Homo sapiens: one gene and its partner. Each later gene encodes a partner of the first gene's protein in a complex. Each region holds a gene or a part of one and is shown in the gene's direction. Other genes may lie near its edges.

Region 1 (16,016 bases):
TGCTTTTTTTTTTTTTTTAATGGTCCTTGAGTCTTCTGGTGAAAGCTGACAGTAAAGTGTGTGTGGCCATACCCTTGCCTGATTGGGTGCAGTTTCTGTTGATGAGGCAGACATCTGGTCCCTGTTGGCATGATGCCTTTTGAAATGTAAGATGGAATCTTTCTAACATGGAGTTACTTATGTCAAGGGCACTGTATATAGGCAGTGAGGTGGTGAGAAGTGTATTCTAGATTCCGCATATTCTAGATCCATTCCAAAGTAAAAGCTGACAGAACTTGCTGATGGGTTGGAAGTGGGATGTGAGGCCGGGCACAGTGGCTCACACGTGTAATCCCAGCCCTTTGGGAGGCCGAAGTGGGTGGATTGCTTAAGCTCAGGAGTTTGATACCAGCCTGAGCCAACAAAGTGAGACCCTGTCTCTCTCCAAAAAAATACGAAAATTAGCCGGGCGTGGTGGTGAGTGCCTGTGGTCCCAGCTACTCGGGAGGCTGAGGTGGGAGGATGACTTGAGCCTGGGAGGCAGAGGTTGTGGTGAGCCGAGATCGCGCCACTGCACTCCAGCCTGGGTGACAGAGTCAGACCCTGTCTCAAAAAAAAAAAAAAAGTGGGATGTGAGAGAAAGAAGTCAAGGATGACTCCACGGTTCTTGGCCAGAGCACATGGATGGAAGAGCTGTGGGAAGAGCAGGTTTAGGGGTGGGGCCCCAGAGATAAAAGAACCCAGGGCTCTGTGGAAGGTCCAAGGCTGGTCCAGAACATGACAGCGTGTTGTGCATCCTGGCTCCCTGTTATCAGCTACTTGGCGAGCCCCTAAAAGAGGAAAGGGGCAGCAGTGCAGAGGCGTGGTAGAGGGACTGAGTCTCCCACCCCAGGCTGCTGGGATGCTCAGCCTCCTCCGGTGGTCAGCAGGAGGGAGCCTTGGAAGGCATTGGAGATAAACCAGCAGAACCACGTTGGCTTTGGACACCCGGGTTCGCTGCAAGGTTCTAAAGTGGCCAGATGCCGCCCCCTGGTGGCTGGCAAGGCTACTTACAACCCTCACTGACCTGCTAGACAGCCCACAAGCTAGAACTGGAGGGGGCCCACCCCCAACTGTGAGCAAAGTGGGGGTTCATTTGAGGCTACGAGTTGGGGCAAACGACTTCCCTGGGCATGAGGCTTTTGAGCCTGTCAAGTGCCTCCCTTATCGCAGAAGAGCAAACAGGTGCATGAAGGGGAAACAACTTTGGAGAAAGGGGTGGCTTGGGGACCCCATCCGCAGTTTTGCTTTCTGCTGATTTTTCAGTCTTCTCCTATTTTCCTTTTCCTTAATTTTTTTGATTTAGATATTTTTAAGAAAAATACATATAGAGGAAAAAAGCCATTCAAATCATAGGAAAAAAGCCTACGTTGTGGAAAGTCAGTCTCCCCACCATTCCAGTTTCCCTCCCCAGAGGTGCCCGCTGTTACAGTTGGTGTTTCCTTCCAGGGACTCTACATGCATCCTGTCACCTGAATTTCTGAAGGGTTTACTATGTGCCATGCACACTTGGCATTTCCGACCTCCGTGTCTCTTCCCAATCCAGCAGTCAGAGGTCACATCCTGTCCCTCCCCTACTCAGCACTTCCCCCAGCTCCCACCTCACTCATAGTAAAGGCCAAAGTCCCTTCAATGGCTATGACCTCCCCTCACCCTTGGGCTCTCACACCTGATTTCCCAAAACTCTCTCCCTCACTTCCTCTGCTCCAGCCACACTGGCCTCATCACTGAGGAGAGCAAAGATCACCTGGTGGCCACAAAGCAGACCATCTAGAGGCGACACTCCTCATCTGAGGAATTCAGAAGTAATTCGATTTCCCTATGATCTAAAGCTGGTATCTAGTACCCTGCTTCCTTCCCCAAAATGTATAAGAAACCAGAATTTCTATACATCTCCGAATGCATGCATGTCAAAACTCATTGTGCAACCCTTGCTGACATCAAAGCACCAAAATATCTACAAGTGTAACTTTTTTTTTTTTTTTTTTGAGACGGAGTTTTGCTCCTGTCGCCCAGGCTGGAGTGCAATGGCACGACCTCGGCTCACTGCAAACTCCGTCTCCCGGGTTCAAGTGATTCTCCTGCCTCGGCCTCCATTTATTATGACCGATGTGGCTAACATGGTCCAAATTACCCTTAAGCTCCCGCTTTAAGGTCCATAAATGCCCCTGAGGAAAATCCACTGTGGTTCACACAGTCCTCTCTTGCTGAGGCGCCGGCCACACTCTGATGCAGGGTTCTTTCTATCTTATAAAACTTTCCCTTTCAATCCTATACTGTTGTGGGCAAACTCTTCTTAACTACCTGCGAGCCAATCACTTACCATTGCCAGGGCTTTGACATCTCGCCCAGAAATTACTTTGCTTATTGTGGTAAAACATACACAACACAGTATTTATCATTTTAATCATTTGTAAGTGCACAATTCAGTGGCATTAAATACAGTCACAATGTTGTGTAACCAGCTCCACTATCTATACTCAAAACTTGTTCATCATCCCTTATAAAAACTCCGTACCCTTTAAACAATAACTCTCCCTCCCCTCACCCCGGTAGCCTTTATTTTATTGTCTGTCTCTATGAATTTGACTATTCTGGATATCTCACCATAAGTGGACTCATATAGTATTTGTCCTCCTGTGTCTGACTTATTTCACTAAATGTAATGAAAAAGATCCATCCATGTTGTATCAGATATCAAAATTCATTTCCTTTTTATGGTTGAATGATATTTTATTGTAAGCATAGACCATGCTTTGTTTATTCATTCATCTGTTTGAGAAAGAAAACCTTTTTCTGAGAAATGCTAACCACTTTAAATTATCAGGCCCAGAAAGGTATTTAAACTGTAACAGCAGGCCGGGCACGGTGGCACACACCTGTAATCCCAGCACTTTGGGAGGCCGAGGCGGGCGGATCACTTGAGGTCAGGAGCTCAAGACCAGCCTGGCCAGTATGGTGAAACCCCATCTCTACTAAAAATACGAAAATTAGCCAGGCATGGTGATGCACACCTGTGATCCCAGCTACTCAGGAGGCTGAGGCATGAGAATCACTTGAACCTGGGAGGTGGAGGTTGCAGTGAGCTGAGATCGTGCCACTGCACTCCAGCCTGGGCGACAGAGTGAGATTCCGTCTCAAAAAAAAAAAAATTAAATTAAATTAAATTAAATTAAATTAAATGGAACAGCAGACTGGGTTCGGTGGCTCACGCCTGTAATCCTAGCACTTTGGGAGGCTGAGGTGGGCAGATTGCTTGAGCTCAGGAGTTCGAGACCAACCGGGCAACGTGGTGAAACCCTATCTCTACAAAAAATGGACAAATTAGCCAGGCATGGTGGTAGGCGCCTGTAGTCCCAGCTACTCGGGAGGCTGAGGTGGGAAGATCACCTGAGCCCAGGATGTCGAGGCTTCAGTGAACCATGATCACGCCACTGCACTCCAGCATGGGCAACAGAGTGAGACCCTGTCTCAAATAAATAAATAAAAATTAAAAAATAAAATGTAACAGCAGTCGCATCTCACTCCTCCTTGAGCTAAATAATTACCTCTTGAACCCACTTGGCTGTGCCAGCTCTGACACCAAGTAGCCATCAAATGCCATACACCCTATAGTTCAACAATATGTAGCCAATCATTAGCCAATGTTATTTCTGTAAACCAATGAGAATTCCTGATGAACAACTTCTGTAATTGTAAGCTCTCCGGATTTGTCCTTTTTCTCTCTCTCTCTTTTTTGAGACAGGGTTTCAGTCTGTTGCCCAGGTTGGACTGTAATAGCATGATCATAGTTCACTGTAACCTCAAACACCTGGGCTTGGCCGGGCACAGTGGTTCACACCTGTAATCCCAACAGTTTGGGAGGCCAAGACGGGAGGATCACCTGAGGTCGGGAGTTCAAGACCAACCTGACCAACATGGTGAAACCCCGTCTCTACTAAAAATACTAAAAAATTAGCTGGGTGTGGTGGCACATGCATGTAATCCCAGCTACTTGGGAGGCTGAGGCAGGAGAATTGCTTGAACCTGGGAGGTGGAGGTTGCAGTGAGCCGAGATCATGCCATTGCATTCCAGCCTGGGCAACAAGAGCGAAAACTCTGTCTCAAAAAATAATAATAATAATAATAATAAACACCTGGGCTCAAGTGATCCTCCTGCCTCAGCCTCCCAAGTAGCTGGGACTACAGGTGCACATCTCCATGCCCAGCTAATTTTCTATTTTTTTTTTTGAGACAGAGTCTCGGCTGTGTTGCCCAGGCTGGAGTGCAGTGGCATGATCTCGACTCACTGCAGCCTCTGCCTCCCAGGTTCAAATGAGTCTCCTGCCTCAGCCTCCCCAGTAGCTGGGATTACAGGCATGAGCCACCACGCCTGGCTAATTTTTGTATCTTAGTAGAGATGGGGTTTTGCCATGTTGGCCAGGCTGGTCTCGAACTCCTGACCTCAGGTGATCCACCCATCTCAGCCTCCCAAAGTCCTGGGATTACAGCTGTGAGCCACCATGCCCAGCCGCAGCTAATTTTCTAACTCAATTTTTTTTTTTTTTTTTTTTTTTTTAGAAATGGGGTTTCATTATATTGCCAAGGCTGGTCTCAAACTCCTGGCCGCAAGCAATCCTTCTGCCTCAGCCTCCCAAGTAGTTGGGATTACAGGCATGAGCCACTGTGCCCAGCCTCATCCTTTTTCTCATTAAAAACTTGAGCCTCTTGTTTGTTCTCCAGAGCATTTGCCAAGGCAACTTGGAAGTGTGCAGTCCCAGGGTGCAGTCCTCAACCTTTGCATTTGACTAAACTCTCTTTAAGCTACATTCTGAGCTAGTGACATAGCAAGACCTCACCTCTAAAATTTTTTCTTCATTAGCTAGGTGTGGGGGTGCATATCTGTAGTCCCAGCTACTCAGGAAGCTAAGGTGGGACGATTGCACCACTGCACTCCAGCCTGAGTGACAGAGTGAGACCCTGTCTCTAAAAACAAACAAACAAAAACAACAACAACAACAAAAAGACCGCATGCTGACTCTTTTGATTATTCTATGTTGACATGTTGATGGACATTTGAGGTGTCTCTATCGTTTGGCTATTGTGAATAATACTGCTATGGACATGGGTGTTGGCCTCATTACTTTTTCTGCAAACTGCCCTGCACACTTCCACATGAGGACTTTTCAGTGGCTGTTCCCTCTGCCTGGAATGCTCTTCCCCAAGGGATCCACATGGCTCACTTTCTTCAAGTCTTTTCTCAAATGTTGCCTTCTCAATGAGGCCTACCCTGACCACGCTATAAGTTCTGCAACCTGGCACTCCTTGTTCTCTTTACTCTGTTTTTTTTTTCTATAGTACTTACCATTTTCTAATGTGCTATATAACATACTTATTTAGTATATTAATTGTTTAGGATCTGTGTCTCTCCATGCGAATGTCATCTCCCTGAGGGCAAGGATCAATGTCTGTTTTGTTTATCTCAGGCACTCATGTAGGTAGGTGCTTAATACATAGTTTGTTGAATGAACTTAAAATCACAAGCCTAAGTCATTTGTTGAGTTACAGATTTTAAACTGGAGTCATGAGATGAATGTGTTAGATGCTCTAATATGCCAAACACTCTTAAATCCCTCAAATACTTAAAATACCATATACACACAGATTGTTTCAAATCTGGGTTAAAATTGAGGTTAACTTCTCAACTGGCTGAAGGTGCGTATCTCTGAAGATGTAAGTCAGGGAATGAGATCTGAAGCTGCAGACAACCAGCGTGACTTTTTCTCGTGACCTGAGGACCATGCTGTGCTCTTGATTCTCCTCCTCCCTGCACTTAGGGCCACCGTGCAGGTTGTATGCAGCATAGTTGGGAGTAGGGTGGGGGTGGGGGTAAGTGGATGCTGAAATCCAGTATGTGCCCCATTTGCCAAATGCAGGGCTTGAGTGCCAGCACAAGGTTTTGTCCATGGGAGAGAAGGGAGTGGTGCCTCTTTCCCATTTGCCACAGGCCCCAATGGGCTTGGAGTGGTCCTGCTTTGTCAAAGACAATGCCAGCCCGCTACCTGCAAACTGATTGGCTTTGAAGCTCACATCTCCCAAGTCAATTCCATGTTTCCTGCTTTTCAGGTTTGCTGAGGCTGTTCCCCCACCCACTATTGGATTTAATGAATCTAGTTGCTATGTGATTCTATTCTGAGTTCTTTTTGGAGACATCCCATCTGGCAAGGCCATGACTCTCAAAGCTATTTCTATGACACCAGATTGGATCCTCACACCCTCATGCTATTGTCTGACTCAGCGCAACACAACAGCCAAGGCATGTGAATTACACTGCTCTTCCTTTTTCTTTATTTAACAAACATTTACATAGTCCTTCCCCTGTGCCAGGCGCTGTTCTAACACTTTCCAAATATTAAGCTATTTAACCCTCCAACCTAAGAGGTGAGTACTATAATTATCTCATTTCACAGATAAGGAAACTGAAGCTCAGAGAATTTAAGTGACCCGCCCAAGGTTCACGTGGCCACAGGTGGCAGGGCTGGGATTCAAACCCAGGTCGACTTTTGCTCCATCTTCGCTTTTTTCTTGTCATTCTTTCCCTCCCTCTTCCTCTTCCTTTCTCCCCTCGTTTTCTCTTCCTTCTTCATTCCCTGCTTCCTTCCTGACAGGGCCACAGCAACTGCCACCTGCTTCCCTCAGACACTGCCCAGCCCAGCACACCCTCCCTCCATCCTCCAGGCAAGGCTCTGCCAGGCTGTCTGTCATCACCCTCATTTCTCTGTGCCAGCAGACAGGGTGTGCCAACCTCAATGCCCTCAACCCGCTGGCTCAGACCACAGCAGCTGGCAGAGGCCTGGGAGCTGGGGCCAGGCCAGCCTGGAGGGCAGTTGGCCCTTCGGGAAGTTACATGATGTGCCCAGACCTTCCCCAATGACGTTTATGTTATCCATATCATAATTTATTTTCTTGCCCAAGGATTTTAATGTGGTGCCAAGATGTCTTGTGCTGCTTGGGATAAACTTAGACAAATAAGGGCCAAGAGAAAGTGAGAGAGTGAGATAGAGAGAGGGATAGAGAGACAGAAAGATAGAGAACCCTAAGGCAGGGGGCAAGGGTGAAGAGACCCAGCTGTCCACGATTCTCTCACTAGAAGTGGCTGCCTACAGTTTTGGGAACAAGGAGGAGTGGCTTGATATCATCCCTCTATGTGTGAATGAACTTTTCTGTGAGTTTCTCAAAGGACTCATGTTCTTCTCCATAACTATGCCTTTGCATATGCTGTTCCCCTGGCCTGGAAGGCCCTTCCCAATCGTTTCTACCCAAGGACCATGCTCACGTGCTGCCCGCTTCTGGGAAACCTTTCGTGAATTCCTGCAGGGGACTCTGCTGGTCTCTCCTCTCACACCAGAGCATCTGTGTGCACGTGCACATTTCTGTTTTGAACTAATTGGCTTACATCCCCTCTCTATGCCCAGTACAGGAGTGGTGCCTGGAGGAAGCTGAGGAGGTACAGGAAGTCTATCAGCACTTCACAGAGGAAGGAAAAGTGGGGATTGTGAAAGCCTCAAGGCAAGGTGACTCTGGGTTCAAGGCTCACCAGCTGGTGACCCTGGGCAAGTCACCTAACCTCTCTGTGCCTCAGCTTCCCTTCTATAGAATGGGAATATTATTACATTTTGTATAGTTTGTACATCATTGGGTTGTGTGAGAATGAAATGAGTTAAGATATGGAAAGCACATAGAACAGTGTCTGGCATGTGCAAATCCCTCAGTAAATATTAGTCATTTTTATTATTATCAAACTGGAAATAGTCATAGAGTTGCCTAAAGGATTAAAGAAAGTACTTTTGATGAAGTGTGAAGCATATAGGAAGGTCTTTGTCATTATCATTAACAGTATCGGCCAGGCGCGGTGGCTCACGCCTGTAATCCGAGCACTTTGGGAGGCCGAGGCGGATGGATCACGAGGTCAGGAGATTGAGACCATCCTGGCTAACACAGTGAAACCCTGTCCCTACTAAAAATACAAAAAATTAGCCGGGCGTGGTGGCGGGTGCCTGTAGTCCCAGCTACTCGGGAGGCTGAGGCAGGAGAATGGCATAAACCTGGGAGGCGGAGCTTGCAGTGAGCTGAGATCACGCCACTGCACTCCAGCCTGGGGGACAGAGTGAGACTCTGCCTCAAAAAAAAAAAAAAAAAAAAAAGAAAAAAGAAAAAAAAGAAACAATATCAAGAGCAGTGCCCAATCCACTGTGATTTCCAGAATTAACTTACAAGTTGAGGCCACATAGCTATTGCTTTTTTGAGCAAATGAAATGATGAATATGATATTTTTTTCTTTTCTTTTCTTTCTTTTTTTTTTTTTTTTTTGAGGTGGAGTTTCACTTTGTTGCCCAGGCTGGAGTGCAGTGGGACAATCTTGGCTCCCTGCAAACTCTGCCTCCTGGGTTCAAGCAATTCTTCTGCCTCAACCTCCTGAGTAGCTGGGATTACAGGCGAGCGACACCACACTCGACTAATGTTTTATATGTTTGGTAGAGACAGAGTTTCACCATGTTGGCCAGGCTGGTCTTGAACTCCTGACCTCAAGTTATCTGCCCACCTCGGCCTCCCAAAGTGCTGGGATTACAGGCGTGAGCCACCGCGCCCGACCAAATATGTTTTTTGTAAATGATAAAATGACAAGCAAAAATCATGATGGTTTAATAAACGTTCATTGCCCTACCCAAAACATAGTCCTGCCTGTAAGTGTGGCTCGTTTTGGGACCTCGGTGGCTTCAGACTTTCAAAAGGGTGGTTTTACTCCCAAAGTCCTGGCTTTTGGGACCTAAGGCAGAAGCTAGTGATGGAGACGGGGAGCTTGGCATGTTGCTTTGCTTCTGACAGGTTAGGAAGCCTCTTCCTTGTCTCCATCAGTAAACAAAGGGAAGTCATTATTCGCTCCTGCAGATGTTGTAACGTTAAAAAAAAATTGGCCATCAGATTGAGAGAAAAGGCTAAGTCACTGGAGCCAATTTCTTTTGTACAGATGAGAGAACTCAGGCGAAGAAAGGGGAAAGGACCTGCTCAAAGCCACAAAGTAACGTACAGCCAGGGCTAGAACCCAGATCTCTAGACCCCTAGTTCACTGCCCTTTCACTGGTGATTGCTTTCCAAAAACTCAATGCTCTCCAAGTCCGGAGCCCCATGTCCTTAAATGGAAGGTGATGGAGGCTCAGTGCTCCTGTCCAGAGACCAGGTGGGGAAGACTTTTTGGAGGCAGGGAAAGTGAGATGGGCAAAGCCAATATGCAGGACACCCTCCTACCTACCTACCTACCGTGCAATTACCTCAATCTTCACAACACTGTGAAGCGGAGACTATCATTATCATCCCCATTTTACTTCTGTAAAAGGGGGCCAGTAACACTGCAGGGATGTAAACGGAGGCCCAGGATCGTCCCATCGTCCCATCGTTCTCTGCAGCTCTTGCTCCTAGAGGCTGGCTATTGCTAAGGTCCAGAACGTGTGCAGGGCACAAAGCAAATAGGTCTCCGGGACTGGGATGAGGTTTTGCCTCTCTATACCCCGTGGTACCCAGCACAGCGTAGGCACGGGGTAGGTCCTGGCTGATCAATCGTCCTGCCTTTTGAAAATGCCATCTTTTCCACAGGCTTGGCCATGCTGTACACCCCGGGATACACCTTCTCATACCAAGTCTCCACTCTCATGTGGTTCTATTCTTGGACTTTCCATCGCCTCCACGTCCCCTGAATATTTTTTCTGTCTCTAGCTCTCAGGAACTTTGATTCCTTGGCTGCCTTATTCTTTGTGCACTTTGGTCAAGAGCCAAAGATCTACTGGTCTCAGCTTTCCCACCTGTACAAGGCGGTGCAGAGCCATTGGCTGGCTTTGACGCGCTATTAGTTCGAATTCGGGACGTAAGAACCGCACAAAATTACCGAGCCCCACTTTCTCTCCGCTCCCCACCATCCCCTCCCTCGTTCGGAAAGCGCCTGCGCAGAAGCCGCCGGCCCGCCCTCCACTATTCGAATCCGTATCCGCCCTTTTCGCGCCCTCGAAGACTCGGCGCTCGACAGGCGTCTACCAGCTTGTCTTCCGGTTTCGTCGCCGCCGCAGGCGCACCTGCCGAGTTCCGAGCGACCGATGGAGATGGCGGCTGCGGCTGAGTGACGGACGGTGGAGGCCCAGAGCCCGGGCCTGAAGGGGGGGACAAACCTGGGTGCCCGCAGGAGCCCGGCAGGGTACATACAGAGGGTCAGGCCCAGTCTGGGGGGCGGGGACACGACTCCTCCAGAACGGAGACGGGCGGGCCGTGTGTGGTTGTGGTGGGTGTGACGTGAGAGGTGGGAGATGGGGCTTTCAGGCCGTGCGTTTCGCTTGTGTGTGCCTTTGATGATTGGGCTCTGTGTGGTTGTGCGGTTACGCGGGGCGTATACACTTGGGTTTGGTTGTGCAGCTGTGGGTGGAGTGGGTGGGTGCTTGTCTCCCGAGCGGTTGTGTTTGATTCTCTGGTTGTGTAAAGCTGAAGCGTTTGTATTCTGAGTTCGTGTGGAGATGTTCGGAGTGTTTTGTGTGGTGTCTGTGCGATGTGTGACGTTGTCATGTCTGCTTCACGGGATTGAGTCGTTCGTGTTGTGTGTGGTCATGCGATGTGTGTATAATCATGTTAGTTATGTGGGTTGTGGTTGCGATCGTGAGGCCGGGTTGAGTGCGGCTGTGGGATGTGTCGTCGATGCGGCATGTGGCGGGGTGACATTCATGCTGGATGTACGGCTGCAGAACATGTAGCTATATTTATTTTTTTTATTTTTATTTTTTTTACTTTTTACGTGATTTAGAGTGCGAGGGGCTTGCTTATGTGTTCAGTTATGGTTGTGGGGTCCAATTCGGTGGTTGTGTTAGATTTCTTTATGGTGTATGCTTAGTTATATGATTTTGGAGTTCATTCATTTCTTCGTTCATTCATGGAGCTTTATTGTGCTGCTTCATTGTGTGTGCCAGGTACTGTGCTAAACCCTGGGGAGACGGCGAAGTGGAAAACATATAGAGTCTGTGCCCTCCCAGATTTTACAGTCTTACTTGGTCACTTCACGTATGTACCTGCGGTTATAAATTGAGATGAGTGCTGTGAAGGAGAAGTCCATTCTGATGCTCTGAGTAAGAGGCATTTCTTTTGAGGAAGTGAGGTTTGGGTTTGGGCTGAGGCGTGAAGGGTGGTTGTGTGGCATGGATGTGGTGGGCTTTGTGTTATTTGTGGTCGTTAGGGGTGAGTGCATGGGAAGAAAGGGAGCTGTCAGAGTCAGCATCAGATGAACCACTGGCTGGGGAGGGAACAGGCCAGACCTAGGGCTGCTATATTCCAGTGGAAAAGTTATGAAGTCACTGGGTTTCTTAACTAGAGGGAAAAAATAGGGACCTGGTGTCTCATTTGTTTATTTTCTGAGTTGCTGCCACCCTTCAGCTTTGAGGACCAGGCAGTCCCTCCTCGGTGGTCTTCTACAGTCCATCCAAAGCTGAGGGTCACACATCTCCCCTCACTATATACTGTGGCTTGTATCCCCAGGTTCTTGGGGAGAAATTTCTCTGCTTTTGTGGAATGGTTTTGTCTCAATTTCTCTTGTGACTGGGTGTCTTGATGAGGTGACATTGGAAGTGACTTTGCCATGAGCCAGTAAGAAAGAGAATGTAACTTATTAAGCCCTGAAGTGTTTAGGCCCCAAATCAATTTATTTATTTATTTATTTATTTATTTACTTTTTTGAGATGGAGTTTCGCTCTTGTTGCCCAGGCTGGAGTGCAATGGCATGATCTCGGCTCACTGCAACTTCCGCCTCCTGGGTTCAAGCAGTTCTCCTGCCTCAGTACCCCCACTAGCTGGGATTACAGGCGCCTACCACCACACCCGGCAAATTTTTGTATTTTTAGTAGAGATAGGGTTTCACCATATTGGCCAGGCTGGTCTCGAACTCCTGACCTCAGGTGATCCGCCTGCCTTGGCCTCCCAAAGTGCTGGGATTACAGGCTTGAGCCACCATGCCTGGCCAGCCTTTTATTTTTGAAGCAGTGAGAACATCAGGTTTGCTACTTAACTGTCACTTAATGGCTTATAAGATCTGTCAGGGTGCAGTGGCTCACATCTGTAATCTCAGCAGTTTGGGGGGGCTCAGGCAGGAGGATTGCCTGAGGCCAGGAGTTAGAGACCTGCCTGGGAAACATAGCAAGAACCTGTCTCTATAAATAATTTAAAAACTAGCTGGGTGTGGTGGCATACTCCTGTAGTCCCAGCTTCTTAGGAGGCTGAGGCAGGAGGATCACTTGAACCGAGAAGGTCGAGGCTGTTGTGAGCAATTATAGCTCACTGGGTGACAGAGCAAGATGCTGTCTCTTAAAAAGGAAAATATAGTACGCCCATTAGAGATAAGTGCTCTACAAATATAAAATAGATTTTTTCTTTTTGACTAGTAGGTTTCTATTGTTTCTCTTTAACTGATGTTAGGATTTTTGATTTTTTGTATGTTTTTATGGCAGATACTATATCTTTTTCATCTTTGCATTTCTAACACAGGTGTCTTACAAGTATCAAGAACTTACTATATGTGGTTGAATAAACAATCAAGGTAAAGAGCATCAAGTAAAAACTTCTGCTTGTTGATAAGTACTTCAGACATTCCCCCAGTGGCTGAAGTGGCATATGAATTATGAAGTTGGATCATTTGGAATGAATGTAAGAGAATTGCCAAGGTATTGTTTGCTTATTTCAAGAATCTGTGCTTCCCACTTCATTGAGTTTTTGTTCTCCAGTGATGTTTTCACATTTTAGGTTTTGCAGCTTGCTTGGTCTAAGGATTTGAGAAAGAGTTTGTTTTCTCAAACTTGCACTGAATAAACATTAAGTACCCCATTGAACTGTGAAAAGAATGAAGAAAATCCTCAATTGCTACCAGTTTGCCTGAATTGGCTTTTTTCCCTTCTTCTTTTCTTTCTTAGGGCTCCTCCTACTCCAGAGAGGAAACCTCATCCAGGGCCATGAAGCCACTTCCTCACCATCTGTGTGCTGCTTAAGCTAATGCTGCGGGAACCATGGTTCCTTGGGAGGAATCAAGCTGACTCTTGGCATGAGATTCCTGCCTTCCTAGGGTTGAGAGCGGCACTGCCATGGCTTCTCTGGACGACCCAGGGGAAGTGAGGGAGGGCTTCCTCTGCCCTCTGTGCCTGAAGGATCTGCAGTCTTTCTATCAGCTTCACTCACATTACGAGGAAGAACACTCAGGGGAAGACCGTGATGTCAAAGGGCAAATTAAAAGTAAGAGGCGAGGACCTTGCCTATCCCCTGCTGTCGTTGAGAGCTTTAACTCACGGGATAGTTCTCATCAGCTTTGGTGTTGCCACAGGAATATGATAATAGTAGTAGCAAACAGATGACTAGTGTTTGTCATGTGCCAGGCGTTTTCAGAGTTTCCCTGTTTATTAATTTCATTTAATCCTCACAATAACTGTGTGGCTGTAAGCCACATTTCGAACCAGACACAGAGAGATTAGATAACTTGTCTGAAGCCACTCAGAGAAACAATCTGACTTTGAGTCTAGTAAATGTAATTGCTGTGATCTGGCTTGACTGTTCTTTAACCACCAGCCTAACAGGGTTTGGAGAGGAATTTCTTTCCTTTGCTATGATGATGGAGGCACATTATGCACCCATTTTACCTGTCACAAATTTAAGACTTCCCACCATCCTTCCTTCCCCAATTGGTATCTTGCCCTCTATAGCCCAGAAAAAGGAAGGTCATAGTCGAAGAACAAAACAACCTAAAAACCTTGGTTTTTGAGCTTCCAAGAGCTCAGGTTTGAGAGAGTTGTGGAAAGAATTTTTCAAAGGTACTTTTCACTATACATATGTTTATTGTATTTCCTGGACATCAAATTCTAACCTCCAGATAAGATGCTGCTCCTCTGGGCGGGCACAGTGGCTCACGCCTCTATTCGCAGCACTTTGGGAGGCCAGAGTGGGCAGATCACTTGAGCTCAGGAGTTCAAGACCAGCCTGGGCAACATGGCGAAACCCCGTCTCACAAAAAAAATTAAAAAAAAAAACAACTAGCCGGGCGTGATGGTGCACGCCTGTAGTCCCAGCTACTCAGGAGACTGAGGTAGGAGGATCACTTGAGCCCAGGGAGGTCAAGGCTGTAGTGAGCGATGATCATGCCACTGCACTCGCACCTGGGCAACAGAGAGAGAGACACACACACACACAAACACACACACGCCAAAGATGCTGCTCCTCTGGAACTTATTTTGTAGTTATTCAGCTAACTTGCTTCTCACAGCTGGCAGCATTTCTGAAGGCCTTGAGATTAAAGAGTTCTGGATGTTGTATTCAAAGTCTTTATTGGGAGAGAAAGAAAGGAATGATCATGTATTTCTAAGTGGACTTCAGCTTTCAGACAGGTGAATCATATGCACTTTGTAATCAGATATTTGTCCCTAGAGTCTCACTCTATCTCACTTTTCTGTTCAGTAAAAAAGAGTTTCTAAAAGCATAAACAGTTATAACTTCTATCCAAAAACAACAAAGGCAAACATTTCTGAAATCCTGAGGGCTTTGGTGGATGAGGTGGCTTCTGGCTGTAGAGGCTATAGAACAGAGCCAAAACTATTAGGAGGGAAAAAAATGCTGTGCTTTATAGTTTTTAGAGTTTCTTTCACAGACATTATTGTTTCATCTGACTCTCCTAACAACTCTGCAAGAAGGTGATTGGTCTCATTTTACAGATAGTAAGTGAAGTGAGGCTCAAGAGATGTTGAGTTACTTATCCACGGTCACACAGGAATTGGCAGAGCTAGGCCTGGAACGTAGGTCTTCTGTCATCTGTAAATCCAGTGCTGCCCTTTGCACGTGACATCACTGAGGGTGAGAGGCCCCGTGTTCCAATCACAACATGCATTGCAGCTTCCTGGGGGAAATGAAGCAAAAACAAAACTAAAAAACCTGATTATGTAAGTTTCCTTTGGACAACCGAAGAGCTTCCATCATTTTCAACTAGCTTCCAGTCTTGGTGTCAGCTGAACTAAGTCCTATACAATGCCATTGCTCAACCTGGTGATACCAGTGGGTAGAGAGGTTAGAGAATGTTCCCGGATTCCTACAGTGACCCTTTTTTAAGAGGAAAAATGTTTAAGGTTATTTAGAGAATACAGATATGGGAATCTATTTAAGGAATACTAAATAGAATAGAAATTTTGTGCCTTGTGAAAGAAACTTGAAAGGATCCTTGGCTGGGCACAGTGGCTCACATCTGTAATCCCAGCACTTTGGGAGGCCATGGCGGGAGGATCGCTTCAGCTTAGGAGTTTGATACCAGCCTGGGCAACATAGATCCTGTCCAAAAATAAAAAAAAATTTTTTTTAATTAGCTGGGCATGATGACATGCATTTGTAGTCCTAGCCACTTGGAAGGCTGAGGCAGAAGGATCCCTTGAGCCCGGAAGGTTGAAGCTGCAGTGAGCCATGATTATGCCACTGCACTCCAGCCTGGGCAGCAGAGTGAAACTCTGACTCAAAAACAAAAAAACAAAATAAAGTTACTTCAGCCGGGTGCGGTGGCTCATGCCTGTAATTCTAGTACTTTGGGAGGCCAAGGCAGGAGGATTGCTTGAGCCCAGGAGACCAGACTGGGCAACATAGCGAGACCATTTCTACAAAAAAATCATTTAAAAAAATTAGCCAGTCATAGTGGCACGCACTCGTAGTCCCAATTACCCAGGAGGCTGAGGTGGGAGGATCGCTTCAGCTCAGGAGATCAAGGCTGTTACATTCTAGCCTGAGCAACAGAGTGAAACTGTCTCAAAAAAAAGAAAGAAAAGATCCTCTTGGTTTTTCCCTTTATTTCCCACCCTGCCTTACCCCCGACATCTCTACCTCTAGTACTATTAATGATCATGTCTTTAGTTAGAAAGGAATTCTTGATTATGTTGCAGTTTTCTGCATTTCAGAATCAGGAAAGTAAAGTTTTAAGGATT
Region 2 (16,277 bases), on another chromosome or scaffold:
CAGAGTCAAGAGAATGAGGGGTTGGGGGAGCAGACCATGGATGACTTTATAGGCCATTGTGAGTGAGATGAGGCTTTGAGCAGAGGGTGGCCTGATGGGACCTATAGTCCCCTCCTCCCCCCAACACTGGCTGTTTTTTTGTTGCTGTTTTGTTTTGTTTTGTTTGAGATAGAGTCTCGCTCTGTCGCACAGGCTGGAGTGCAGTGACATGATCTCGGGTCCCTGCAAACTCTGTCTCCCGGGTTCAAGCGATTCTCCTGCCTTAGCCTCCCAGGTAGCTGGAACTACAGGCGCCCCCACCACGCCCGGCTAATTTTTGTATTTTTAGTAGAGGTTGGGGGGTTACACCATGTTGGCCAGGCTGGTCTCGAACTCCTGACCTCAAATGATCCACCCACCTTGGCCTCCCAAAGTCCTAGGATTACAGGCAACACTGGCTGTTTTAAAGGAGAATTGTCATTTATTTTTGGTTTTGTTTGTTTACATTTTAATAGGATTGCTCTAGCAGCTGTGTTGAGAAAAGACAACACAGGGAGACAAGCATAGAAGCAGGAAGGGGAGGTAGCTGCAAAAGGCAGGAGAGAGGTGAGGCGGGCTGGTCCAGGAGGTGGCCAGGATTCGGGGGTGAGGCAGTGGGAGTAGCAAAAGCAGATTCTGGATGCTCTTGACAGTAGAGCCTGTAGGACTTGCTGATGGATCAAATGTGGGTGTGAGAAGTCAGGCAGGACTCCCAAGGTTTGGCCCTGGTGTGATGTTTAATATTAAGTGTCAACTTGATTGAAGGATTCACAGTATTGTTCCTAGGTGTGTCGTGAGGGTGTTCCCAAAGGAGATTAACATTTGAGTCAGTGGACCGGAAGAGGCTGACCCACCCTCAATCTGGGTGGGCCCCATCTAATCGGCTACCAGAGCGGCTAGAATAAAGCAGACTTGCTGAGTCTTCTGGCCTTCATCTTTCTGCCGTACTGGATGCTTCCTGCCCTTGAACATCAGCCTCCCAGTTCTTCAGCTTTCGGACTCTTAGACTTACACCAGTGGTTTGCCAGGGCCTCTTGGGCCTTTGCCCACAGATGGAAGGCTACACTGTCGGCTTCCCTATTTTTGAGGTTTTGGGACTTGGACTGATCCACCACTGGCTTCCTTGCACCTCAGCTTGCAGACAGCCAATCATGGGACTTTAGCTTGTGATCGTGTGAGTCAATTCTCCTCAATAAACTCCCTTTCATATATACATGTATCCTATTAGTTCTGTCCCTCTAGAGAACCCCGACCCTGACTAATACACCTGGCAAACTGCCATTTACTGAGATACAAAAGATTGCAGAAGGCACTGGTTTGGTCAAGAAATCTGGATGTTTGGTTTGTTTGTTTGTTTGTTTATTTTGAGACGGAATCTGCTCTGTCGCCCGGGCTGGAGTGCAGTGGCATGATCTCGGCTCACTGCAACCTCTGCCTCCCAGGTTCCAGCGATTCTCCTGCCTCGGCCTCCTGAGTAGATGAGACTACATGTGCGCGCCACCATGCCTGGCTAATTTTTTGTATTTTTTAGTAGAGACAGGGTTTCACCATATTGTCCAGCCTGGTCTTGAACTCCTGATCTTGTGATTCACCCGCCTTGGCCTCCCAAAGTGCTGGGATTACAGCCGTGAGCCACCGTGCCCGGCCTTGGTTTTTATTTCGTTAGTATTAAGAAACCTAATAGGCATTCATTCAAGTGGACGTATCAAGTAAGCAATTGTACATAGAAGCCTAGGCAAGCTAGAAATTAAGGAATCATCAGCTTTAGATCATATTGAAAGCCTTAAGACCAGATGAAATGAATGAGCAAGTAAGTGACTGCAGAGAAAGACTGCCACAGACTGAGCTCTGGAGTCAGACAGGAGGAAGAAGCAGCACTCCCTGAGCTGGGGGTTGTGCAGAGCTGTACAGAGAGAGAGAGAGTGCCAGAGGTTTGCAGAGGGTTCCCTTCAAGTCTTTACTGAGCAGTGCAGGCAAGTGAAGAAATACCTGCATTTCAAATTCCTACTGTGGTAGGCACTCCTACCCCATGCCAGATAAAGAATCACCAGCGAATATTAGAGAAAACAATCCCCAGCACTCACGCACGGCCCAGAGGAACTCCGAATTCCGCCAATCATGGTGAAAACCTTCACAACTCAAGGATTTGTTGAGTAGAATGCTGCTCAGGGCCCACCCCCTAAAAAAAGTGTAAAAACATGACCTGAAGCATCAAGCTCTTTCCAAGGAACTTACCTGCACCCCAGAACAAAGCTCAAAAATATTCATAAAAATAAACATTATATGTATCTCAAAGTAAACTTCTCAATGTCTGGCATTCAATAAAAAATTATCTGGCTTGTAAAGTAGGAAAATATTACCTACAATGAAGAGAAAAGCCAATCAATATAAACAATCTCAGAAATTACTTAGGTGATAAAGTTAGTAGAAATGACACATGTTCCATATGCTTGAGCACTAAACACGGAAACCAGAGGACCCAGATGCAGGTCCAGACACCGAGTGAAACTTCTGCAGGTGAAATGGCAATGCCTGAGACGAAAAATACGCTGGATGGAATTGACAGCAGATTAGATACTATAGGAAAGATGAGTGAATTTAAAGACACAGCAATGGAAATTACACGAAAATGAAAAACAGAAAGAAAAAAGACTGACAAAAAATGAACAAAGCCTGAGTTAGCTGTGAAACAAATTCAAGTGATCTAATATTTGTGTAGTAGAATCGCCAAAGGAAAGGAGAGGCAGGGGCAGAAAAAAATATTTGAAGAAATAATGGCTGAAAAAACTCCAAATCTGATAGCAACTATAAACTCAAAGACCAGAGAAGTTCAGTGAAACTCAAGGACAAGAACTTTAAAGAAAATCAACACCAAGGCACATCATAATCAAATTGCTTCAGACTAGTGATACAGATGAAATCTTAAAACCAAGCAGAGATAAAAGACACGTTGCATAAAAGAAATAAAGATAAGAATGGCAGTTCACTCCTTATCGGAAACAAAATGAGCCAGAAAACACTGAAACAGTATCTTCATGTTAGAAAAAAAAAATTGAAAACCCTAAAAATCGAAATTGAGCAAAAATAGCTTCAAACACAGAAGTGAAATAAAGACTTTTTTGGACATATAAAAGCTGAAAGAATTAGTCACCAGGAGATCTACACTTCAAGATCTGTCAAGGAAAGCCCTTCAGACAAAAGGGAAATGAGACCATGGAAATCTAATCTATACAAGAGAATAAGGAGTCTTAGATATGGTAACTATGTGAGTAAATATAAAACACTTTTTTCTTATTGTTTAAATCTATTGAAAAGAATTGGCTGAAAATGCAGTATATATGTACAAAGTATTGAATAGTATTCAGTCTTAAACAGGAAGGAAATTCTGACACATTCTACAATGTTACAGATGAATCTTGAGGACATTATGCTAAGTGAAATACGACAGTGAGGAAAAGACAAATACTGTATGACTCCATTTATATGAGGTACTGTACCTAGAGAAGCCAATTCCTAGACAGGAAGTAAAATGGTGGTTGCCAGGCACTGTGGGGAGAAGTGAATGGGGAGTTGTTGTTAAACAGGTACAGAGTTTCAGGTTTGCAACATGAAGCGTTCTAGAGATGGATGGTGGTGATGGTTGCACAACAATGGGAATATATTTAATGCCACTGTACATTTCAAGATGGCTGAGTTGCTACATTTTATGTCTATTTTACCACAATTAAAAGGAAAAGAGAGACAGAGAATTAGTAGCTTATTAAGTAAAAACAATAACAATGTATGTGGGTGTACAACATATGTAGAAGTACAACATCCCCAGCACAGATGCTGGGGGAGGATGGAAGCAAATGGTTGTCAGTTTCTTATACTCTGTATAAAGTAGTGTATTATCACTTGGAGGTGGACTGTGATGAAGACCTATACTATCAACCCCAAAACCACCACTAAACCTCACAAGAAGTTATTCTTCCTAAGTGACAAATGAGATAAAACAATCACAAAAATGCCTCTGTCCACTGAAAAGGCCTAGAAATAGCGGTCCCCTGGAGCAGCAAGCACAAGCGTACATATATATTAAAAATTGTCAAAATGTACACTTTAAATATGTGCAGGCCAGGTGCGGTGGCTCACGCCTGTAATCCCAGCACTTTGGGAGGCTGCCCAGCACTTTGGGAGGCTGAGGCAGGCGGATTACCTGAGGTCAGGAGTTTGAGACCAGCACAGCCAACAAGGCGAAACCCCGTCTCTACTAAAAATACAAAAATTAGCCAGGTGTGGTGGCGCGTGGCTGTAATCCCAGCTACTCAGAAGTCTGAGGCAGGAGAATCACTTGAACCCGGGAGGCAGAGGTCATAGTGAGCTGAGATCACGCCACTGCATTCCAGCCTGTGCAACAAAGCAAGACTACATCTCAAAAAATAAAATAAAATAAATACATACGTATGTGCAGTTATGCCTATACTTCAATAAAATTGTTTCAAATAAAAGCACGATGAGCTGCCTGGACAGGTGAAAATTCCAGTGGTAGTCATAATGTCTTTCCATAGACTTTCTCTTCTCCTTTCTTTCAGGGACATAACAATATTGCATTTCCTGTCCTCTTTGAAATTAAGTGTTGCCACATGACTTGCTTTGGCCCATGAAATGTAAATAGAAGTTCTTATAGCAATTCCTGGTAAGTGCTTCTCTAACTAATGCACAATCAGTCCTAATGCATAGCCACTCCTACCTGAGTGATTGTGGAGATGCATTTAGATAAAACACACTCGGTCAGCCTGGGTCTAGGAGGGCCCATGAGCAAGTCTCTGCTCGTGGGAGTGGACAGGTAGTCTGAGCGAGGAACTTTGCTGCGTAAGTCATAAATGGGTTGAGAGATCTGCATTACTGCAGTTAATCTAGCCCATTCTGACTGAATATTCCCTAGCAACAGAGGTATCTGATCATGGACATAGTTTTGACAGTGGAAGGTAAAGTGGCCCAGTGACCTCTGAGGTGTCTACTTTCTTGAAGATGTGAGTTATATGTCATAGTCTCCACCAGCCTGGGTGTGGAATTGAGCTTCCATTTTCAAGTCTCCACTTGTATGTCTGGAATTTGGCTCCTTCTCAAGGTAACACCCAGGGATTGCTGAGTTCCCAAGTGCTCAGACACAAGTCCACTCATTTTCTTCAATTCCAGTTACCAAAGAAAGTCACCATTCCACCGAGGCTGTGACCAGTGCCCTCCACCAGGCCTAGCTCCAAGAATCTCATGCATCAAGCCCCAGGGCTCCTCACGTTGGGCATTAAATGTAAGGTCATGCCACATTCTTTAACATTGTCAGGAAGCAGGAAGGAAAGTACCAGATACTTGAAGGACCCACTGACCTGGAAAAAAGTGGGATCTAGTTTCAGCTTGAAAAAATCCTTCTTCATAATTACATTTCCCTTAGGCAAATCTCTAACATGCCTAGGCTTTTGTATATCTGTTTTTACTGCGTCACAAACCTCCCCCAAAGAGAAGGGAGACGATAACTGGAGAAAACCACAAATTAATCTTCCAATATTTTTTTCTTCCATATAATCAGCAGTGCCTCAGAATCAAAGCAGTCTCTAAAAATATTTTGAAGAAATTTATTTTCTTGGATCTTCAAAGATCCAAAGTTACTGAGATGCAAAGAATCTTCCACAGTATCATCCAAGGATACTGAAGGGCTCCTTCAAACCTCGCCCTTGTATATTTCTTCTTCCAGTTGTGATACTGCAGTTACATTTGCAAACCAAATGATCCCTTTGGGTGGTTTTTCCAAAACAAATCGTCTTTCCCAAAGGCCTACCTAAGTCTTCATTTTCCACAAAGTAGAAAACTGCCCACAGCTTTGAAATGGCAGCATAATTTGTATTTCTACCACCTTGTCCAGGTTTCAGGGATCTCTGGTCCAGTTTCAGTCAATAATGCTAACTATCACTGCAGCTCACTGACTTCTTTCTTGTACATAGCAGTTTTTCGCAGGAAGAAAACAAATCTAACGAATAGGAATAACTTCAGGTGATGCTGTTTTCTTCCCGCTTCCTGGGATCACTGTCTTTCCTCTGAAATGGTTTTAATCAGAACCAATCTGTTATACTCAGGAGCCTAAATCAAACACGACATGCAGAGAGACAAACAAGAAAGCAACAAATGATCTGAGCCACTGAACAAGAAATATATATAAAACAGTTTTAGGAATTACAGCTGTCACAACTTTTCACCATGGGGCCTTCTCTGTGATTTAGAAAAAACTGCATTTATTTGTTATTAGGATCGGAGACAAGAGAAAAATACCGACCCAAATAGCCACTGGGGAAGAGGGAAGCTCTGATGCCAATTTATGTGGAGGATGGAGCCAAACTGACTCACACACACACACACAAAAGTATGTACTGGCATTTTCCACACAGTCCAGGTCACTTGGGAGCTTAGCCAAGGATATTTTGAGCATTCGACTACCTATTGTGAACAAGGTTGGGAACTATGAGGCGCTATGTGGCCCTGATCAAGCTCAGATGGGCCAAATCCTCAACCAAAATTCTCTTTCCCATAAATGTTTATCTCTACATTTCCCACAGAAGGGGATTCTAACTCAGTTTTGCTTCTGAAACCAAACTATCCAAGGCCAGGTGAGATGACTCATGCCTGTAATCCCAGCAATTTGGGAGGCCAAGGAGGGAGGATGCTTGAACTCAGGAGTTCAAGACCAGCCTGGGCAACATAACAAGACCCCATCTCTACAAAAAATTTAAAAATTGGCGCGGTGTGGTCGTGTGAGCCCCTAGCCCCAGCTACTCAGGAGGCTGAGGCAGGAGAATCGGTTGGGCTGGGCTGACAGTGCCAGACCCTGTTAAAAAATAAAAATTAAAAAAACTCCTAAATTTGGAAACACATCCCCAGCTGAGGGCCGGGAGATACTTCTCAACCGTAATCCAGAACCCTCTAAAATGGGATGTGGAGAGGCTGCAGCCTGTAGTCTTGCGATGACCTTTTAGCACCTGGGCATCTTGCGCTTCTGTCATTCCGCCCACACCCGCTCAGCTCCATCCAAGAGGGCCCGGCAGTTTGGAGTGAAAGCTTAGCTTCCCAACGGGTAAATGAACCTGCCTCCCATTCACAGGGCGGCCTCTGGCTGGACACCTGGGGCCTACTGCCTCCTTGTTACACATTAACCAAGTTCTGGCCTCCATCGTAACAGCGTCAGGGAAGTTTTTTCCTGGCTGACAGCCGCAGATGATGACCGAAGACAACGTCTTAACTGAGACGGGCCAATTTGGCAAATGGACTGCTTTCCTCCCCAGTGCGGGCACCTTCCTCCTCTGTCCGGCAACTGGACCCCACTGTCCCCAGCCCTCTGTCACCCCCAAACCTGCCCACCGCCCGCCTCTACCCGACCCTCCCTCAGGGAAATCGGGACTCAGCCCCCAACGCCCCCACCTGCCGCTCTGCCCACCTCAGCGCACACCGCCAGAGCGCCCAGCCCGCGCACGTGCTTCCGGCGCGCGCCGAAGTCCTCACGCGCCCCGCCCCGGCCTCCCCGTGCGCACGCGCGAACGCGGGGTGGGCCGGGCCTCGCGTAGCCCATCTCCTCTTCCTCCTCGCGGTCGCGGCCGGACGGAGGGTGGAGGGCCCTGCGCCTGCGCGGAGCTGGAGTCCGGCTGGGCCGCAGCCGCTGGGAGACCGGCGGTTGCCGTGGGGACCGGTCGGGCCCCTCCCTCCTCCGGTCCCCCGCCCCAGGTCCTTCCCCACCGAGACGCGCCGGCGGACCGCGGGCGAGTGCAGCCGGTGACCCGGCGAGAGGCGGCGCCGCTCCCAAGATGTCGCAGACGGCCATGTCCGAAACCTACGGTACGAGGCCCGGGCTGGCGGGGCGCGCGGGTCGGGCCGCGGGGGGCGTCGGTGGCGCGGGGCCGGGCCTGGGCTGCGGGGGTCTTGAGGGTGGCGGTGGCGCCGGCCGGAGCCGGGGGACGGATCTCGGAGGTGTCTGGGCTTGGGACCGGGATGGGGGACGCGGGCCGCTGGGGGCTCGGGTGGGGTAGCGGGTGCGCGGGGCGCGGGGGCGCTGTGCACAGCGCATTGGCGTGATCCGCCTTTTCAAGTTTCCTCTTGCTCTTTCTCTGCTCTTGCACTCTTAGCGCTTTTCCCCTCTCAGTCTAATGTAAATAACTGAAGGTTTGAAAAGCCAGCTTGATGTTCGGTTTCAGCTGCGATATTATCCCCAGCGAGCCTGTGAAGGGCTTAGGGCGACGCCTGTGTTCCTCAAATACTTCAGTTTGACCTTTCCTGGTTTGGAATTCCTTGCTTTACATTGGGATTACAGTGAGGAGTTATTAATAGGCTAATTCATTCATCTCTTCCTCCGGAGACCTCTTGCTTCGTTTATTTCTCCCTCCCTCTCAGTGTTTTTTAGCCTTTTCTGGGTTGCATTTTGGCTATTTATAAACATGTCTTGTCTCCTTCTTAAGACCGTAAGCACCTTGGAAGCAAAGCCCTGGCTGTTTAATCTTTGTTTCCCCTGCAGCACCCAGACCTGGAGGTGCTTGACAAATACTGTTTTGAATAAGCGAAAGCTTTCCCAGTGCATATGCTGTGTGCTTTTTTTTTTTTCTCCCCTTTTTTGGCCTTGCGTGGTAAGAATAAACAACTTGTACTTTGTATCAGAGTTGAATATTAATAGATGTTTACCAGTCCCTAATCACTCTTTCAGATGTATGTATTCTCAGATTAAGACTTTGATTTGGAGTTTTACAGTCCCAGAGAGAGGCTCAAGTTCAAAATTACATACCTCAAGCCAAATTAGTCCTGTCTCCATCTGTCCTGGCATGCTGCTTCCTTCTCTGCAACAAATACTGTGGAATGGCATTAGGGAAGCGAGCACCGTGCTGGGAGGGCTGTACATCCTGCAGAAACACAGCAGACACGGCTCTGGTCTCATGGAGCGTAGTCTATTGAGGGAATGCAGTATTAATCCAATTGTGATACTAATGAGTGAATAATTAAAAACCAGGCAAGAGTTCTGAAGGAGTGTGGTCCGTGAAAGTGTGTTAGAAAGAAAGATGACCCAGACAGGGGTGTCAGGGAGGCATTAACCAGGCAGCACGCAGAACATCTCAGGCCTGTGGGAAGGGTAACTCAAGAAGGGTGTGTTTTGAGTACCACGCTGGAGAGGTGGATGAGGAGGCAGAGAGGAGAGGGTCTTGAGGAAGGCGTCAGTTTGTCTTGTAAGAAAAAATGGGAACTTTTGGAAGGGCTTCCATGCTGGGGTCACAGTGCATTTGGTCCACCTTCAGTGAGTGACTCCTGTGACTGGTACTGCCCTGTTCTTGGTGACAAAGGGGCATGACATCTGTTCCTAGAAGGCGTAGGAAATCCTCCAGTAAGTCGATGCCTTCATCAGGACAAGTGTTTGCAAATGTTTCTGCAAATGGCAGTGGTCTGGTTCTTCCTGTAGAGAACCACAGTCAGAAATGTTGTAAGGAAAACATGGTCTTTAGCAATTTTTGGTTACATCTTTGCACTTCTTTATTTTCAAGTGCTCTTTAGCCCAGGCTTAGTTTCTTTAACCTGAGTAAGGAGCACGGAGCACTAGGGGAAGGGTGGAATGTCCAAATAAGAAAAGCAAGTGGGGGTCATGAATCAGTAAGAAAGGATTGGAAGAGTTCAGGAGATAGAGCTTTTATGTTTCATTTTTCGTATACGCATGATAACAACTGATAAAATAGAGCTTATCTTTGGCATCTCCACTTCAGACACAGTTAACTGAACTTTTGAGCTTCACAGATTGATTACATTCTGATCATAAGGCTTTGACCATTAGTATTCTTATTTCATGGTAACTTCCAAGTATGTTTTTACTTTGCAACTCTGAATTGAATCTTTTCTTCTAATAGAGGAAATTAATCGAAAACTAGTAGAAACTAATAAATAGAAAATGAGGCCAGAGGTGATGGCTCACGCCTGTAATCCCAGCACTTTGGAAGGCCGAGTTGGGCGGATCACTTGAGCTCAGGAGTTCAATACCAGCCTGGCCAACATGGCGAAACCCCAGCCCTATTAAAAATACAAAAAATTACCTGGGCATGGTGGTACGCTTGTAGTCCCGGCTACTTGGGAGGCTGAGGCATGAGAATTGCTTGAACCCAGGAGGTGAAGTTTACAGTGAGCCAAGATTGTGCCACTGCACTCCATCCTGGGCAACAGAGTGAGACTCTGTCTCAAAAAAAGAAAATGAGTTTTAGAAGGAGCAAGCAGGACAGTTGAAGTTTGCCAAGCTGAAGTAAAAGTCACCTAGAACCAAGTCCTAGGCTGTCACTTTGACGTATCAGTGGCCATATTTATACAGCATTGTTCCTTAAAAGTGAAACAGTCAGGCTCTCTTCTGGACATTTGCCTCTGAGCTGGTGAAGGAATGTTTGCCTAACCTTTAAACTCCTTTGTACTCTGTGCTTATTTGCTCTTCTGTAAAAGGAGGCTCTGTGTAGCTTGACAGAGAGATGAGGAATGAAATGTACTGGGTTTTTGTTTCCCTTTTTTTTTTTTTTTTTTTTTGAGACAGGACCTCGCTCTGTCACCCATGCTGGAGTGCAGTGACACAATCACGGCTCACTGCCACCTCCATCTCCCCATCTCAAGTGATCCTCCCACTTCAGCCTCCTGAGTAGCTGGGACCACAGGTGCATGCCACCACACCTGGCTAATTTTTTTTTTTTTTTTAATTTTTTTTGTAGAGACGAGGTCTCTGTCTGTTGCTCAGTCTCATCCCGAACTCCTGGGCTCAAGTGATCCTCGTGCCTCCACCTCCCAAAATGTTGAGATCACAGGCATGAGCCACTGTGCCCTGCTGAAATGTACTGTTTATGAGCTACCTCTCATTAATGTGTTCATTTAATATGCTTTTTAACATATTAAAACAGTATTTCACCTTCCATAGACTGAGTAGTGTTGAACATTTTTGTTGCTTTGAAGTCACCACATGAATACTGTACTTTATGTAATATCGTGAAACAAATTGAAATCTTAGGTTTTGGATGAAACCCTTAGTCTGAATATGAAACAGTTCTACCAAATGCCATTAGATACACTACATTCTTAAAGCCCTGGCCAGTTAGTATGGCTTGGGACTTCCCAAGGAACTCTGCTTCAGCCATCTGAGACCTGGGAGATTACAAATTGGCTGAAAGTAATTTTGATGCTAAGCAGCGATGTTCAGAAAGGAGCTGAAAAGTATATGTAGTGGGAAAATGCCAGGAATTTCTTTTGAAATTAAGTGCTGGGGCAGTTCGAGAGTGAGGAAAAATCTAATACAAAATCTCTACATATATTAGAGTTTATGCCGTCTACAATGGGAATAACAAATGAAACAGAAGAATACAATTCAAATTGCTGGTTCTATGCTCATTTTTATTAAAATATACTCTTAATGTTTTTATTTTGTGCTTCATTTTGAAAACAGCACAGTATTACAGTATTTGCCATATAATTTTGAGAATTATCAGAATATTTTCCTTAAAAATGTATCATTTTAGGCTGTTCAGGTTGAATTGTGTTCCCCAAAATATCTGTTTAAGTCCTAACCCCTAGTACCTGTGAATGTGACCGCATTTGGAAATAAGGTCTTTGCAGATGTAATCAAGTTAAGATGAGGTCATCGTACTGAATTATGGTGAGCCCTAATTCAGTGACTGGTGTCATTATAAGATGAGGGAAACTTAGACACAAATGCATTCAGAGAGAAAGAGATGTGAGGATGGAGGCCAAGATTGGAGGGATGCATCTACCAGCCAAGGAGTGCCAAGGGGTGGCTGGCAACCACCAGAAGCTAGAGAGAGGCAAGGAGGGATCCTTCCCTTGAGCCTTCAGAGAGACCTTGACCCTGTCAGCACTCTGAATTTGAATGCCCGGCCTCCAGAACTGTGAGACAATAAACTTCTGTTGTTTTAAGCTTCCCAGTTTGTGGTTCTTTGTGATGGCAGCCCTAAGAAACTAAAATATAGGCTTTGCTCATCAAAATACGATTCATGAGAAATTTAGGATGACAAGGCAAGATGAAGTGAAGAAGATATCCTTGGTAAAGGAAATAGCATTTCTTTTCCTTTTTTTTTTTTTTTTTTTTCTTTGAGATAGAGTCTCTCACTGTTGCCCAGGCTGGAGTGCAGTGGCACAATCTCGGCTCACTGCAACCTCCACCTCCCGGGTTCAAGCGATTCTCCTGCCTCAGCCTCCCAAGTAACTGGGACTACAGGCGCCCGCCACCACACCTAGCTAATTTTTTTTTTGTATTTTTAGTAGAGGCGGGGTTTCACTATGTTGGTCAGGCTGGCCTCCAAACTCCTGACCTCATGATCCCGCCCTTCTCAGCCTCCCAGAGTGCTGGGTTTACAGGCGTGAGCCACCGTGCCCGTGTATAAATAGCATTTCAAAGTCACCTGGTTCCAATAAAGTATGAAATAACTTGCTCTTAGGGAAATCACCCCAATTGCCCTTTACCTTAATTTCATGAAAGATGGAACAGGTAAACATGTCAACAAAGGAATCCTGTAACACCAAAACAAAGGACATTTCTTCAAGTTGAATAAATATATGATTATACATGTTTGTCATTTTCTTTTTCTCATTCACTGAAAGCTGGTGAACATTTCAAGTACCAAAGTTTGGGAAACATTGCACCAGTGGCTTATCAAACTAATGTGCACACGAGTCCCCTGGTGTATTAAAATGTAGATCCTGACTTGGAGGGTGAGGGAGATCGGCATCTGACCAGCTCCCGGGCCGTGCAGGTGCTGTTGGTCCAGGGAGGCATGTAATGACTCCATGCTCGAGAACTTTGAAAGCATGGTTTTTTGAAAAAACAAAATATTCTTTCTCATGGTCATTTGAACTGTAAAGTATTCCAATCCATGCCTGTGACTTTACTGCTGATGCTCTGATGACTGTAACATCTATATTTCTAGTCACATCCTTCACTCAAACTACAGATCTTTTTTTCAGCTACCTAACTACACCTGGGTGGCCTACAGGCATCTGAATGCAGTACGTCCCAAACCCAACAAATTATTCACGCCTATGCCCCATCTTCTATTTTTCCTGTGTTTGCCTAGAAGATAAAGTTAGAGTCCATTTTTAATTCTTCCCCATCCTTACCTCCTGGATCTATTGGGTTTCAGAGTCTTTTGAGCTGACTTCTTAACATGGTTTAAGTTACTGTTTACCCTGAAAGATGCAAAGGAAAGTTAAATTAGGGCCAGTTTACATGATTAAAAGGTAAGCAAATTGGGTTTCATTCCAAAGTTCTTCGTCGTAGTGACTTGAGCAGCTGTGCTGACTATCTTACAGCTTGCCACACAGCATCTGCACCACTGTCCCTAGGCAGCTTCCACAGCACCTGGAACCTGGGTTCATGAGGATACAAGAGCCTCCTGGGCCAGGATGGGAGTAGTTTTCCACTTTAGAAGAACTATATATCTATATATAATATAGATATATATAATATATATAGTTTATATATAAATTATTTACAATTTATATATAATTATTTATAATTTATATATAATTATTTATATTTATATAAATTATTATTATATCAGTGGAAAGTAACAAAGAGTTGGCCTGCTAAGTAACTGCCTTCCTCAAATCAGCCTCCTCAGTGTGTGTGATCCCAACGAATGGGTCAGGAAAATCAAAGACCCAATCACGAACCTGGAGCAATTGTTGGGAGTCTGTGCTGCAAATGTTAAATTTACAAGCGTCAGGATTCCGCTGTGCCGACAACGTTTAATTCAGGCTTAGGTAAACCGCGGCTCCTACAGGCACACTGCAGAGTCCCATGATTAGCTTTTGCTGCCTGTTCCACCTCCTTTACTTCTTATTCTTCCCGCTCCTCTACAGGTCGTGTGCTCTTCTGCTGCCCAAACCTTCCACCTCTCCTAACCAGCATTTCATCAAGGTTCCCACTGTTCAATTCCTCCCTGACCATTGTACCAAAACTTTTTGTCCTTTAAAGTACATGTCATCTTATATTCTGTCCTCTGCCAGCTCCTCGTTGCTGTTATCTGATGACCCTGGGGATAGTCCTTTTTCAACAAGGTCATCTATCATATGGTCTTGCTCTTTGCTCTAACTCCTGACTGATCCTAGGTCACTGCATTGTCCTTGCAGAGGTCAATCAACAACTCCGCTCCACAGTTCCTTGACTTTAGTCAAGATGAAGTCAGGTCTCTTCTACCACCTCTTCAGGTACTCACTTCCCTGACTGCTCCCTGGACTTTGTCACCTATCCCATTCTGACCACTCCAACTCCATCCAGTCTTCACTGTAAGAGCTTCAGGCTGCTGGTCCATCTCCTCCCTTTCTTCTTTTTTTCTGAGACAGAGTCTCACTCTGTTGCCCAGTCTGGAGTGCAGTGGCATTATCTCAGCTCACTGCAACCTCCACCTCCTAGGTTCAAGTGATTCTCGTGCCTCAGCCTCCTGAGTCGCTGGGATTACAAGTGTGCGCCACCACGCCTGGCTCATTTTTGTATTTTTAGTAGAGACGGGGTTTCACCATGTTGGCCAGGCTGGTCTCGATCTCCTAACCTCAAGTGATCCACCCACCTTGGCCTCCCAAAATGCTGGGATTACAGGCATGATCCACCATGCCTGGCCCCTTTCTTCTTTTCAGGCAATGAGCTGCTCTCTCTTCAGATAAGACTCATGGCTTTTCCTTCCACCTCGTCCTTCTTTTTCTTTCAACTACACACACTTTGCACAGCTCCAGCCCTGGCTACCCAGCCATCTGCCTTGCCTGCTGTGCAGACAGAGCTCCTTTTAGATTGAGATCATTGCAGATGTATGGTCTCTGCTTCCAGCTGGGTACTCAGTAATACTTAGCAATCATTTTTCTTATCCTGGCCACCTCTCTCTCCACATCAGCTATTTTAAACCTTCACACATCTCCTCAAGCCCATTCTCTCACTCCTAGTAGATGACCACCAGTAGATGTAAGGAAAAGATGCCATGTCTGCAAACTTGCTTACCTCATCCTTAACCCTTTCCATGTTGTCTCAGAAGGTCTCTGTTGTTTAAAACTAACCCCAGCCTTCTACTTTGGACCCCATCTCTAAAGCTTCAAGTCCCCACTTCACCCATCATGTCTGTTCCCCTCCTTTTCCCTTTCCACTGGTAGCTTCCTGACTTTGCGCCTTCCTCCTTTAACCACCTCTGTCTCTCCTTTCCCTCACAGCTAAACTGCTTATAAGAGCTGTCAGTACTTTTTGTCAACAGTTTTACTTCCTTCATTCTTCAACTGACTGTAATTAGGATTTTGCCCCCACCTGAAATGATGTTGGTTTCACCAGAGATGCTGATGATCAGTCAGTGGACACTTGGCAGCCTTTATCTTACTTAGCTTCTCTTTTCATATTCGGCCCTTATAAGAACTGCTTCCCCAAATCTCCACTGTGTTGGCTTACAGGTATTTTCAACTTAATCTCTGAATTGGCAACTTATTATTTTACCTTAAAGCCTATTCCTTCTCAGAACCTTCAGCATCTCTTATCTCAGTTTTCGTAATCACAGACCCTAAGCCTTTAATTCCTAAAGAAGGAAACCTTCTTTAAATGACTCCATTCTACCCAAATTCTAGTGCTATACCACAGCACTTAGCCTTTTCTGCCAGGAAGTAGGACACATGAAATGCATCATACAGTCAGAGGCCATACATCCGTGCTTCCTTTCTGACATTTGGAAATCTTGAAAGCAAGACGATTGCTTGGGGAAAAAACTAGGAAGGCAGAGGTCATCGTGTCTGCTGAATATGGCTTAATTTTCTTGAACACTCAAGGTCATCATTGACTATTGACTGCTGCACAGAATGTGCTGTGCTATTACGGCCACTTTCTAGCTCATCCCCTGCTGTCCCCATCTGCCTTTGTGCCTGTAGTTCACAGTCCTACTTTAGTATATACCTTTGATCTACTGCAGTTTGGGGCATTAGGTAATAGAGGCTGCTTGAAGTGAATGTAAAACAAGTCAGTCAATTCCAAATGAGGTGTCTCCTGTAGAGTTAATCTTTTTTGGCTTTATGTTTGCTATTTCAGTGGCTAGGAGACCTTTTTTTCCTGGTCTTTATTTTGTCTGTGTTCCTGAATGGCTGACATTTGCTCAAGATTGAATTCTAATTATTTGATACCTTTCCTATTATCTCATTTGACTTTTCTCATACGGAAAGTTAAAAGTACATTAGTAGGATGTATCTGTTTTAGATTTTCT

Evidence for each region.
Region 2: the proteins of RBSN (region 1) and RAB4A are in contact, whole or in part, in a crystal structure (PDB 1Z0K), measured with the Homo sapiens proteins. Residues at the interface, in NP_001289307.1 of Homo sapiens: Glu441, Gly442, Trp443, Leu444, Pro445, Ser447, Glu454, Pro458, Leu459, Gln461, Gln462, Asn465, Ile466, Phe469, Asp480, Glu481, Thr484, Leu485, Asn488, Leu492, Glu495, Gln499; in NP_004569.2 of Homo sapiens: Tyr10 (codon at 7,875), Leu30, His31, Ile34, Glu35, Ile46, Gly47, Val48, Glu49, Phe50, Gly51, Ser52, Lys53, Lys63, Gln65, Trp67, Arg74, Phe75, Ser77, Val78, Ser81, Tyr82.

What each region holds. Positions count from the first base shown.
Region 1 is NC_000003.12:15,093,259-15,109,274, reverse strand, and holds the start of RBSN (rabenosyn-5), read left to right. Parts: upstream 1-10,126; 5' UTR 10,127-10,240; exon of another isoform or gene 10,241-10,253; intron 10,254-11,000; 5' UTR 11,001-11,156; intron 11,157-12,564; 5' UTR 12,565-12,740; intron 12,741-12,986; 5' UTR 12,987-13,154; coding exon 13,155-13,302; exon of another isoform or gene 13,303-13,604; intron 13,605-16,016. UniProt on the Homo sapiens protein: Rab4/Rab5 effector protein acting in early endocytic membrane fusion and membrane trafficking of recycling endosomes. Required for endosome fusion either homotypically or with clathrin coated vesicles.
Region 2 is NC_000001.11:229,263,493-229,279,769, forward strand, and holds the start of RAB4A (ras-related protein Rab-4A), read left to right. Parts: upstream 1-7,618; 5' UTR 7,619-7,847; coding exon 7,848-7,878; intron 7,879-16,277. UniProt on the Homo sapiens protein: The small GTPases Rab are key regulators of intracellular membrane trafficking, from the formation of transport vesicles to their fusion with membranes.